Linked DNA regions of Homo sapiens. The protein of the gene in region 1 interacts with the protein of each later gene in a pairwise test. Each region holds a gene or a part of one and is shown in the gene's direction. Other genes may lie near its edges.

The links.
Region 2: the proteins of CCDC57 (region 1) and FH interact in binary tests that used the Homo sapiens proteins (3 or more experiments, as listed by UniProt).
Region 3: the proteins of CCDC57 (region 1) and ZBTB4 interact in binary tests that used the Homo sapiens proteins (3 or more experiments, as listed by UniProt).

The regions. Positions count from the first base shown.
Region 1 is NC_000017.11:82,167,781-82,171,429, reverse strand, and holds part of CCDC57 (coiled-coil domain-containing protein 57), read left to right. Parts: intron 1-3,649. UniProt on the Homo sapiens protein: Pleiotropic regulator of centriole duplication, mitosis, and ciliogenesis. Critical interface between centrosome and microtubule-mediated cellular processes. Centriole duplication protein required for recruitment of CEP63, CEP152, and PLK4 to the centrosome.
Region 2 is NC_000001.11:241,513,108-241,516,756, reverse strand, and holds part of FH (fumarate hydratase, mitochondrial), read left to right. Parts: intron 1-3,043; coding exon 3,044-3,154; intron 3,155-3,649. UniProt on the Homo sapiens protein: Catalyzes the reversible stereospecific interconversion of fumarate to L-malate. Experiments in other species have demonstrated that specific isoforms of this protein act in defined pathways and favor one direction over the other.
Region 3 is NC_000017.11:7,477,430-7,481,178, reverse strand, and holds the start of ZBTB4 (zinc finger and BTB domain-containing protein 4), read left to right. Parts: upstream 1-1,547; 5' UTR 1,548-1,723; intron 1,724-1,746; exon of another isoform or gene 1,747-2,292; intron 2,293-3,749. UniProt on the Homo sapiens protein: Transcriptional repressor with bimodal DNA-binding specificity. Represses transcription in a methyl-CpG-dependent manner.

The DNA.
Region 1 (3,649 bases):
TGTTTTGGTGTGAATGGAATTCCTTGTGCTCCCTCCAGAGCCCACGTGCCCTGGCTCCTCACTGCAGTCAGCCCTCCCTGTTTTGGTGTGAATGGAATTCCTGGAGCTACCTCCAGAGCCCACGTGCCCTGGCTCCTCACTGCAGTCAGCGCTCCCTGTTTTGGTGTGAATGGAATTCCTCGCGCTCCCTCCGGAGCCCACGTGCCCTGGCTCCTCACTGCAGTCAGCGCTCCCTGTTTTGGTGTGAATGGAATTCCTTGTGCTCCCTCCGGAGCCCACGTGCCCTGGCTCCTCACTGCAGTCAGCGCTCCCTGTTTTGGTGTGAATGGAATTCCTTGTGCTCCCTCCGGAGCCCACGTGCCCTGGCTGCTCACTGCAGTCAGCGCTCCCTGTTTTGGTGTGAATGGAATTCTGTGGCACCTGTGCTTCTGTCTGGCGTCTTCAGACCTACACTGTGTTTCACTTGATAATGCCAGATTCTTCTCCAAAGCATCCATCCACATCGTGCGAGGTAGCCGTGGTGCTGCATGCGCGCCAACACTTACGTGGTCAGCGGCTCCTTCTGTTCCCTCTAGTGGACACGTAGCACATCCTATTTTGGTTTAATTTGCAAATTCATGAGATTCGTGGGATTGAACATCTCTTCCTGTGTGCATTGGCGTATGATTGGCTAGGGCTGCCGTAACTCAACACCACAGCCTGAGTGGCTTAAACAACGGTTTTATTTTCTCACTTCTGGAGTCTGGATGTCAGAGATCAGGTTGCCGGCAGGGTGGGTTCCTCCTGAGGCCTCTCTGTGGCTTGCAGACGGCACCCTCTCCCCTGCGTGCTCATGTGGACTCTCCCCCTGCGTGCTCACGTGACTCCTCCCCCGCTGCATGCTCACTCCTGGTGTCTCTTCCTCTTTTTTTTTTTTTTTTTTGGGACAGAGTCTTGCTCTGTTGCCCAGGGTGGAGTGCAGTGGCATGATTTTGGCTCATTGCAGCCTCTGCCTCCCAAGTTCAAGCGATTCTCCTGCCTCAGCCTCCTGAGTAGCTGGGATTACAGGTGCATGCCACCACGCCCGGCTAATTTTTGTATTTTTAGTAGAGATGAGGTTTCACCACGTTGGTCAGGCTGGTCCCGAACTCCTGACCTCGTGATCTGCCTACCTGAGCCTCCCAAAGTGCTGGGATGACAGGCGTGAGACACCGCGCCCGACTCTTCCTCTTCTTGTAAGGACAACAGTCCAGGGCCCCAGCCTTAGGACCTCATGTAACCTTAGCTGCCTCCTCAGAGGCGCTGTCTCCAAATACAGTCATGTTCGGGGTGAGAGCTTCAACCCGTAAATTTTGGGGGGCAGAGCTCAGTCCATAGAATTGGCCTTTCGACAGCCCCTCTTTTGGAGCTCCAGGCCATGTCTTTTGCCCATTGTTTATTGGATCATCTGCCCTTTGTCATAGATTTTTTTAGGGTATTTTATGCTGAATATGAGCCTAGCGTTGGTTATATGTGTTGCAAATATCTTCTCCCAGTCTATGGCTTGCCTTTTATTCCTTCACTGGTGTCTTTGGTGAATGGAAGGTCTTAATTTCAAGACAAACTCATAGGCTAATCTATTCCATTGTGGTTAGTCCAACATCAAAAGGTTCATTCTAGCATTCTAGCTTTCTTTTTCATTATTCTAACTTCCTTTCCCAATAATGAGAAACCTGGCTCGCCCATTATCACTAACACAGTTACTTTGATCGAGTCCTCTTGGTGTAACCAATCCCCCATTGCTGCTGTGGCCCCTTCCCCTATTTGCAGGCCCCTCTCCTGCCTGGATGCCTCCCCAGCATCACCGAGCTTGACAGCCCAGCCTGGCTGCCTTCCACACAGATGCCTTCACCCTGCTGGAGCCACAGCCCCCCTTAGTGTAGGGGAGGCAGGCCCCATCTGCAGGCCTAAGGCAGGAAAAGAAAGGGAGGGGCCAGACAGGACACTCCACTGGCACAGATTGTCTCAAATAGGGGAGGTTTTTGCCGGGCGCAGTGGCTCACGCCTGTAATCCCAGCACTTTGGGAGGCCGAGGTGGGTGGATCACCTGAGGTCGGGAGTTTGAGACCAGCCTGGCCAACATGGTGAAACCCCGTCTCTACTAAAAATACAAAAAAATTAGCTGGGCGTGGTGGCAGGCACCTGTAATCCCAGCCACTTGGGAGGCTGAGGCAGGAGAATCACTTGAACCCAGGAGGCGGAGGTTGCAGTGAGCCGAGATTGCACCACTACACTCCAGCCTAGGTAACAGAGCGAGACTCCATCTCAAAAAAAATAAAGTAAAATAAAATAAGGGAGGTTTTATTTTTCTTTTCCAATGCTGATATTGTTTACTTCTTCTTGCATTATCGCCCCTAGCTAAACTCTCCGGTATGATGTTGATAATAGCTGTCTTTCTCCCTAATCCCAGAGGAAGAACTTTCAGCATTTCACTTTTTTAGGTTGAGTTTTTGCTGAAGGTTTTTTGTGGTGGGGGTAGTGGAGGGAGGTTAAGGAAGTTTCTTTCTATTCCTGTTTTAATATAGATCTTTATTTTTTAAATCACGATTCTTTGTTTTTGTTTCATATATTTTGTATCTTTGTTGTTAGATGTGTATACATTTAGGGTTTTTTTTTTTTAGGATAATTGACCCTTATATTGTTACGTAATCTTCCTCTTTGTCTGGCAACATTCTTTGTTCTGAAGTCTACCTTGTCTGATATTAATTAATCCACTCGGGCTTTCTTTTGATTAGCATTCGCGTGGTATAACTTTTTCATCCCTTTTTCTTTTTACCTACCTCTCTCTTTTATATTTGAAATGAATTTCTTGTTTTTTGAGACGGAGTCTCTGTTGCCCAGGCTGGAGTGCAGTGGCACAATCTCGGCTCACTGCAACCTCTGCCTCCTGGGTTCGAGCGATTCTCATGCCTCAGCCTCCAAAGTAGCTAGGGTTACAGGCATGTGCCACCATGCCCAGCTGGTGGCGTTTGTATTGTTAGTAGAGACAGGGTTTCACCATGTTGGCCAGGCTGGTCTCGAACTTCTGGCCTCAGGTGATCCACTTGCGCTGGCCTCCCAAAGTGCTGGAATTACAGGCGTGAGCCACTGCGCCCGGCCTAAAGACAAAAACTGTTGAAAGCACACAGAGAGAGCGATGCACAGCCCACAGGGGACAGTGACTGGAGCGGTAGTGGGTTCTCAGCAGCAGCTGTCATCAGATTTCTCCTCAGAAGGAAGTGGCATAATATTTTTCAAGTACTGAAAGCAAAAAACTGTCAACCCATAATTATACATTCAGTAAAAATATTCTTCAGGAATGAGAGTGAATAAAGACATTCTCAGATGAAGGAAAAGTTTGTCACCAGCAGACTGGATCTAAAAGAACTGATAAAGGAGGTACTTTAGACACAACAGAAGGAAGGAAACTAGGAATGTCAGGAGTGAAGGAAAACTAATGGCAAGGATGAATATGATAGACATTCTTTCACACTTAACTCTTAAAATTACGTTGACAGGCCGGGCGCCGTGGCTCATGCCTGTCATCCCAGCACTTTGGGAGGCCAAGGCAGGTGGATCACCTGAGGTCAGTAGTTGAAGGCCAGCCTGGCCAACATGGCGAAACCCCGTATCTACTAAAAATACAAAAATT
Region 2 (3,649 bases), on another chromosome or scaffold:
TGCTTGAACCCGGGAGGCGGAGGTTGCAGTGAGCTGAGATCGCACCACTGCACTCCAGCCTGGCGACAGAGTGAGACTCCGTCTCAAAAAAAAAAAAATTAATTTAATTTTAAGTTCCGGGATACACATGCAGGATATGCAGTTTTGTTGCATAGGTAAATGTGTGCCATGGTGGTTTGCTGCACCTCTCAACCCATCACCTAGATATTAAAACCCGGCATTAGCTATTTTTTCTGCTGCTCCCCCTCCGCCCACAGGCCCCTGTGTGCTTTGTTCCCCTCCTTGTGTCCATATGTTCTCATTGTTCAGCTCCCACTTACAAGTGAGAACATGCGGGTTTGGTTTTCTGTTCCTCTGTTAGTATGCTGAGGGTCACAGCTTCTAGCTCCATCCATATCTCTGCAAAGGACATGATCTCATTCTTTTTTATGGTTGCATAATATTCCATGGTGGATATATACAACTTTTTCTTTATCCTTTATTGATGGACATTTGGGTTGATTTCATGTCTTTGCTATTGTGAATAGTTATTTTGGATTTTTATTTGGCAGAACTAAATGATTGTCTTTTCACTCTTGCTGGGTATTTACAGATTTTTACTAGGGTTCTACAGTTTGTAAATATTTTTATTTCAATACTCATTCTTTTTTCCCCCACTAATTTAAAACTGAGATTTTTTAAAATTACACTTTGTATTTTGGTTTCAGTTTCCTAAAAAGTGTATAGTACACAAACACATCAAAGTATTACTCTTAACCATGTCTGACATATAATAGATAATATATAAGTATTTATTCAATTCCATATGAATGATTAAATGATGAGAAAACTTTCTACCACATTCAATTAAATTTAAGATGCCATTAATTAGAAGATGCACCAATAGGCACCACTAAGAAAGAAAAATGCTACCAATTAAGGTTGTGACTTACCATTGATTACAAGATACATCTTGATTTCAGAGATGTTAAAGTGTGAAAAGAATTGAGAAATGCATAACATATTCTACGGGAGCCCAACCGGAGTATGAAAAATAGTCAATGCAGGATAGGCTAGTAAGCCTAGAAGTAGATAGGCTTCATCCTGTGAGATATTGTTTAACACTTATCTTATAAATATGCTTTTATTTTCAATAATTTTAAGTCATTCCTAAGCCTTCAAGACTGCCTCTTGACAGGTATATAGAACTTTACAACAGGCAGCTGAATCTTTGATGAGAATATCTTTGTCATTGCCATCTACAGCCTTCTTGGTGGTGAGGTAAACATAGTTTGACTACGTGGTTAGGTGAAAAAGGGTAGTGACCAATCCTAAAATAATCTCATATTATTCAACTCCAGAGACTAAGGAGGAGGTCAGCCCCAGCTAGTGTTGGTGGGAGTGAGCATGGCTGCCGTTTTCATTGATCTGTGTCACCAGCATGTTTTGTGGTTCTGGTGGGGCATGGTTCCTGCTGCTGCTGCTCCAGAGACAGCACAGCCATTGGGATTGCACACCTGTGAAAGGCAGACACCTGGGGTCTCGATTTTGTCATACTTTCTGAACTTTATTATGTGTAAAACAGTCTGTATGTACTCTAAACTGAGTAGTATGATTAAACTCAACCCTTTTTACTTGAGGTCCAGAGGAAAACAAAGCTAAAAAGATTATGAACATCTAATGTGAATAAATTAAGAATAAAGTGACCTGTCTTTTCTCTCTAGTGATACATTTTGCCATTTTATGGTGTTCGTTGAACCTCTTTCTGCTGTGAATGACCCTTTTTTATTTTTATGGTCCATAAACACTGGGGGTCATTCACTCCATTCAGATGGCCAGCGTTGATTGGCATTCACCTTTGCCCTTGGTAGTGGTTCAGCCCACTACCTCAGTGTTTGTTACTGTGGAGATTTAAATTCCCATTTGTTTTTGTGTTTAAAGTTTTTAAGTTTCTAATCCTGTGTGCCATCTGTCCTCATTTCGTTTGAGTCAAACGTTTCTAATGTTTTAATTTTAGTTACTTAAAATTGAAATTTCAAATTTTCTGGTTTTCCTTTTCTATTTGACCCTCAGCTTATACTTACTCTGGTCCAGGTTTATGTTTTTAATGTGTCTTATTTCTTACTTTTCTTGGCTTTTTCTACTTTGATTCCAGAGATAGCAGGTTCTCTCTTATACATTCATCATTCTCTTCCTTTCTTCCCTTTCTCCCTTCTACTCTTTCCCCATTCAAACCTGGTGTGGGATCTATACAACAATCTGTATTATTAATTTTGACAAGAACTCACAATTCACTTGTCTTATAAAAACTAGGTTTTCATTTCAGTTTATCCTTTTCAAGCTTGGTGAGGTGATTTGGGATAGACAATGAAAATATCTGCATTAATGGGGTTTTATATATATCGGAAGCTGTCACCTTTAGGTCTGGAGAATCTTGGGTTTAAAAAAATAATTCTTCTGAGAGAAATGTCCAGGGAGTTACTGAGTATTAAGGCTTTACTAGCTAAGTAGAATAGATTGCTTTTTGGCCTTGGGGTGAAATGATAACCCAGTCAGTCACTGGTAGTCTCATACTGATTGGCAGTTAAATATATCCCTTATTTATTTATTTTTTTAAGAGGGGAAGGAAACAATTATAATGTAACGTGGGATCCAGTAAGAGAAAATAATGGTTCTTGCTGGTGAAAAGATTGAGTACTAAATTTGTTTTTATTTATAGTATATGAAATAAACACATATAATTTATTGTGTGTATTTGTGCATAGGATTGTATTCGTGTGAATATGTGTGTATATGTATGTGGGAGACGTACACACATATATATATGAAGAGTCAATGTATTTGTTTTTATTTGGTTCCTTAAACAAATAGATCTATGATAATGTTGATTCTTGGTTCATGAATTCCTGTCTATAATCTTTCTCTATAACCGAAACATTTTAGAGCTATAGTGTTACTGTTTTATTGTTATTGTTTTATGTATAGCTTTTGCATCTGCCAAAATAATAAACTTCCATGCTTAAGTAAAATTGTAAATTTGAAATATTTTTCTGATTAATTTTAGACCCCAGTTATTAAAGCTTTTGGCATCTTGAAGCGAGCGGCCGCTGAAGTAAACCAGGATTATGGTCTTGATCCAAAGATTGCTAATGCAATAATGAAGGCAGCAGATGAGGTAGGAGGTGATAAGTGTGTTTGCTTAATAACCTCAGACCCATGCCATACTCTGGATGACGATATGCTCTGGCAGAAGGAAAGGGGAACTGTGAATTCTTGAATTAATGAATTTCAGGGGAGGGTGGTAGCATTATTTTTAGTGGTGATATTAATATGGTGCTTAAAACGTTACATTGTGACAAAATTTCTGGATGATTTTATACCTTTTGTTTTTAAGCCTTTTGACTTTCCTTAATTTATATAGTTTTAAGAAAATTTTTTGAAAAGATATCATTTGAACTTTACTTGATTTTTTATTTTATATATAAATCTTTTTAAAACCAGTTGATTATTTGATAATGCATATTGAGAATGTAATTTTACTAATATGCTAATAACATTGTCTTAAAGAAGCAATCAGAGGTAACAGAACTGTATATATAGTGTTGTTAATTACAGCACTATTTATAATAATGAAAACAAATTAGACAATGCGTAACTATAACAGCTACTT
Region 3 (3,749 bases), about 75 Mb from region 1:
TTTTTTTTTTTTTTTGGGACGGAGTTTTGCTCTTCTTGCCCAGGCTGGAGTGCAGTGGTGCGTGCAATCTCGGCTCACCGCAACCTCCACCTCCTGGGTTCAAGCAATTCTCCTACCTCATCCTCCCAAGTACCTGGGATTACAGGCATGTGCCACCACACCCCGCTAATTTTTTATTTTTCGTAGAGATGGGGTTTCTCCATGTTGGCCATGCTGGTCTTGAACTCCTTACCTCAAGTGATCCACCCCACCACCCCCCGCCTCCCAAAGTGGTGGAATTACAGGCATGAGCCACCGTGCCCAGCCCAACTCTGCTTCTTTTCTATTTATGTCTCCATGACTCCAAAGTTTGTCTGATTCTTTTATTCTTTTTATGGCTAGCTCTGTGGCTTTACATTAATTTGTTTATTTATATCTTGCATGGTTTCAGAGAGGTTTTTTTGTTGTTGTTTTTTTTTTGAGACGGAGTCTGTCTCTGTCGCCCAGGCTGGAGTGCAGTGGCGAGATCTCGGCTCACTGCAAGCTCCGCCTCCCAGGTTCACGCCATTCTCCTGCCTCAGCCTCCCGAGTAGCTGGGACCACAGGCGCCCGCCACCACGCCCGGCTAATTTTTTTGTATTTTTAGTAGAGACAGGGTTTCACCGTGTTAGCCAGGATGGTCTCGATCTCCTGACCTCGTGATCCGCCCACCTCGGCCTCCCAAAGTGCTGGGATTACAGGCGTGAGCCACCGCGCCCAGCCTCAGAGAGGTTTTAAGGCAAGGAGCTGTGAACCCTGGCTCCTCCATCTCCTTAGTTTTTAATTTTCCAGCACCAGGGAGGAGTTCTTGGGATTGTCCCTGTGGAGTTTCAGGAATGTGTTTTTTCTGTGTGTGCTTCCACCTGGTGTTTTGTTGATGCTGTCCCCAGAGGCCGACACCAAGGCCTCTGCATTTATGTTCAAGTATACAGATGTGGATCTATCTGCTGGTGGGGACAAAGTACCCAGCCAGCTTCATGTGTTCATTTGCGCTGGTGGTCGTTCGTGTGTGCCCCGTATGCAGGGCCAGGGCCTTCTTTTTCCGCGGCCTGCTGAGCTTTCCTGCGCATTCCTGGAGAGGGTGTGTGTGTGTGTCCAGGGCTGGCCCTCTTTGAGTGTGCCGACCCTGGGTCTGTGAGTCCCACCGGGCCTGATTATGAGTCTGCCATGTCATGTCTGCACCCTGAGAGCCTGTGTGTTATGCTTTCAGGCAGTGTGCACCGCTGAGTGAAGGGCGTGCAGGAGGAAGGGCGGAGGGAGCCCTTTCCCTGGGGGTCGGTGGTCTTGCGCCCCTGCCGGGATGCTGCAGCCCGGCCCGCGCCCCGCTCGGTGTCCACCCGCCCGGTGGCCCAGCGCGGCGCAGTGTCATGCCGCGGGGGTCAGTCCTGGGGAAGGCCGTCGGGCGCTCGGAGCTTTGTGTCGGTGTCGGCTGCGCTGCGCCGGCCTCCTCTCGGCGGCGGCGGCGGCGGCGCTGGGGGGGGACTGTTTCCGGGGGTGGGGGTGGGGGTAGGACCGGGGCGGGGGGAGCCGATGATGTCAGCGGCGGCGGCGGCGGCGGCAGCGGGGCCGGGCCGGGGCCAGGCGCTGGGGGGGCCAGGGCCGGAGCTGGAGCCGGAGCCGGAGCTGGAGGCGGGCAAAACCGGAGCGGCCGGGGGCGGCCACGGTGATGAGCCGGGCCTGGCGGACGCGGCGCCATCGCAGTCAGGTGGGCCCTGGGGCGAACTGGGCAGGGCCAGGGCGGACCGGAGCCAACTGCCAGGCCCCCTCTCCGCTGCCCGGCGCTGCGGGAGCCCCGACCGCGCCCCGCGCCCAGACCGCTCTCCTTTGGGGTTGACCTGGGGGCGCAGGGGTCGGGGGCTGAGCCTGGCCCCGCCCCCGGGCGCGCACGACGCTGGGGGGCGACTAAGGGGGCCCTGGTATGGCGTCCGAGCGAGGGGCGGCCGTGGGACGCGATCGCCTGGGGCCGTGGAAGGGGAGGTGCTCACTCCCTCTTTGAAGGGTTAATTCTGCAGCCTAATGGCCCCCTCCCCCCGTGGGGCAGATTGGGGGTGGGGTGGGGCGGGTGTGAGCCCGGGCAAGCGCTGCAAGCTGCTGGGAGGGTGATGGCGTAGGAGCCAGGCAGAGAGGGGGAGGGGTGGGCCGCCGAGCGCCCCAGAGTTGGGGTGTGCGGGGTGCGCAGGGCGAGCTGGGGCCCCGGAACCGCCGCGCCGTCGGGGCAGGGTTGTGGCTGTGAGTCTTGGAGATCGTGTGTCTTGTGCTGTGTGGTGGGGCAAGGTAAACCTCTCCTGGGCACCACCGTTTGCTGGCAGCCAGGGGTCTGGGTAGGGCCCTCCCTGGGCCATGGAGATAGAAAGCCAGGAAGGGTGTCCAGTGTTGTGGGGCAGAGTTACAAGACGAGCCCTGTGGCTTTGGGTGACAGATGGGTATTCTGAGCAGGGCACAGCATGCTGGGTGCAGAGTTTGTTCGATGTGGGGCTGTATGTTTTCTACAGCATGTGTTTTCTCGCATGTGTGTCTTGTGCTGCACCTATGACCTGTTTATGAACTGTTTTCTGCAGAGCTGGCATGCTGTATGTGTTGCGGAGGGTGCCAGGATGCAGTGTATGTGCCCTTTTGGAGGGGGCGGTTGTGGGCCTTTGAGTCAGAAGGCGTCACGTCTGGGTCCCATTTCTGTGGCCCTGCTGAGGTGTGGTCCAGTGGTGAAGAGGGCGATGGATGGGTTTGCGTGTCTGTGATGAGCGCGTTGCATGGGGGCTGCGCGTCTAGAACTCAGATCCCAAAGATCATGAGAGGAGCGAGGAACCCCGGGGTATGTCTCAGGGGCCTGTGGGTCAGTTGGCACTGGTGTGAGGGGCTCGAGGTGGAATGCGCCAGTTGTGTTTATGGGATCATGGGCAGCCAAGCGAGGGGAAGGTTGTGTGTTTGCAACATTCTCCACAGGATTCTTTTGTGACGTTGTTTGTAGGAGCCTGTCTGGGCTGCTGAGCTGGGAGGCAAACTGGTCAGAAAACACATGTGGGGAGGGAGGTGGCGTGACAAGGGCAGTGTGGGCCTCAGACCCAAGAGGCCAGCCGCAAGCAGGCTGTGTGTGCGTGCCTGCCGTCTGTGTGCTTAAGTGGCGGTGGGGCTGCGGAGGGGATTTGGTATGAGGAAGGCGGGAGATAAATGCAGGGTAGCGCATGGAGGCCGGCGGGAGGCATGGGTGTTGTCAGATGGCCCAGCTAATCTTTGCAGGGTCTGTATGTTTGCCCCTCATGAGCCTGCCCAGCGTGTCAGGGTCACCCGGAGGAGAGGCTGGGCGGCCACAAGGGAAGTAAGCTTAGACAGAGAGGCTCCTTGGCCATGTTTATGTAAAGGCTGGGTGTGACTCTTGTCACTAAAATGGAAAAAAGAAACGTGAAGTTTTCAGCCTCCTCCTGCTTCACCCTCTCCCTCTCTCTGCCCCCCTTGTGGGTATCTCTGACGCACACTGGGCCCCACTCCTGCGACGGTGGAAGGGCCTCAGAACAGAATTCGCTCACTAGGCAGATTCCTCAGAACAGGTTTTCCTCACCTTTGGGGACTGGGCCCTTCTAGGGGTGTGTGTGCAAGTGCATTCCAAGCCTGCACACCACTGTCTACTGTGCCCGGCCCCACTGGAAGGATGTGTGTACGTGGGGGAAGGGAGGGTGCTGCGGACAGGCCCTCCGGCATGGGGGGCTGGGAAGGGGTGGCTGCCGTGGGAGCCTGCT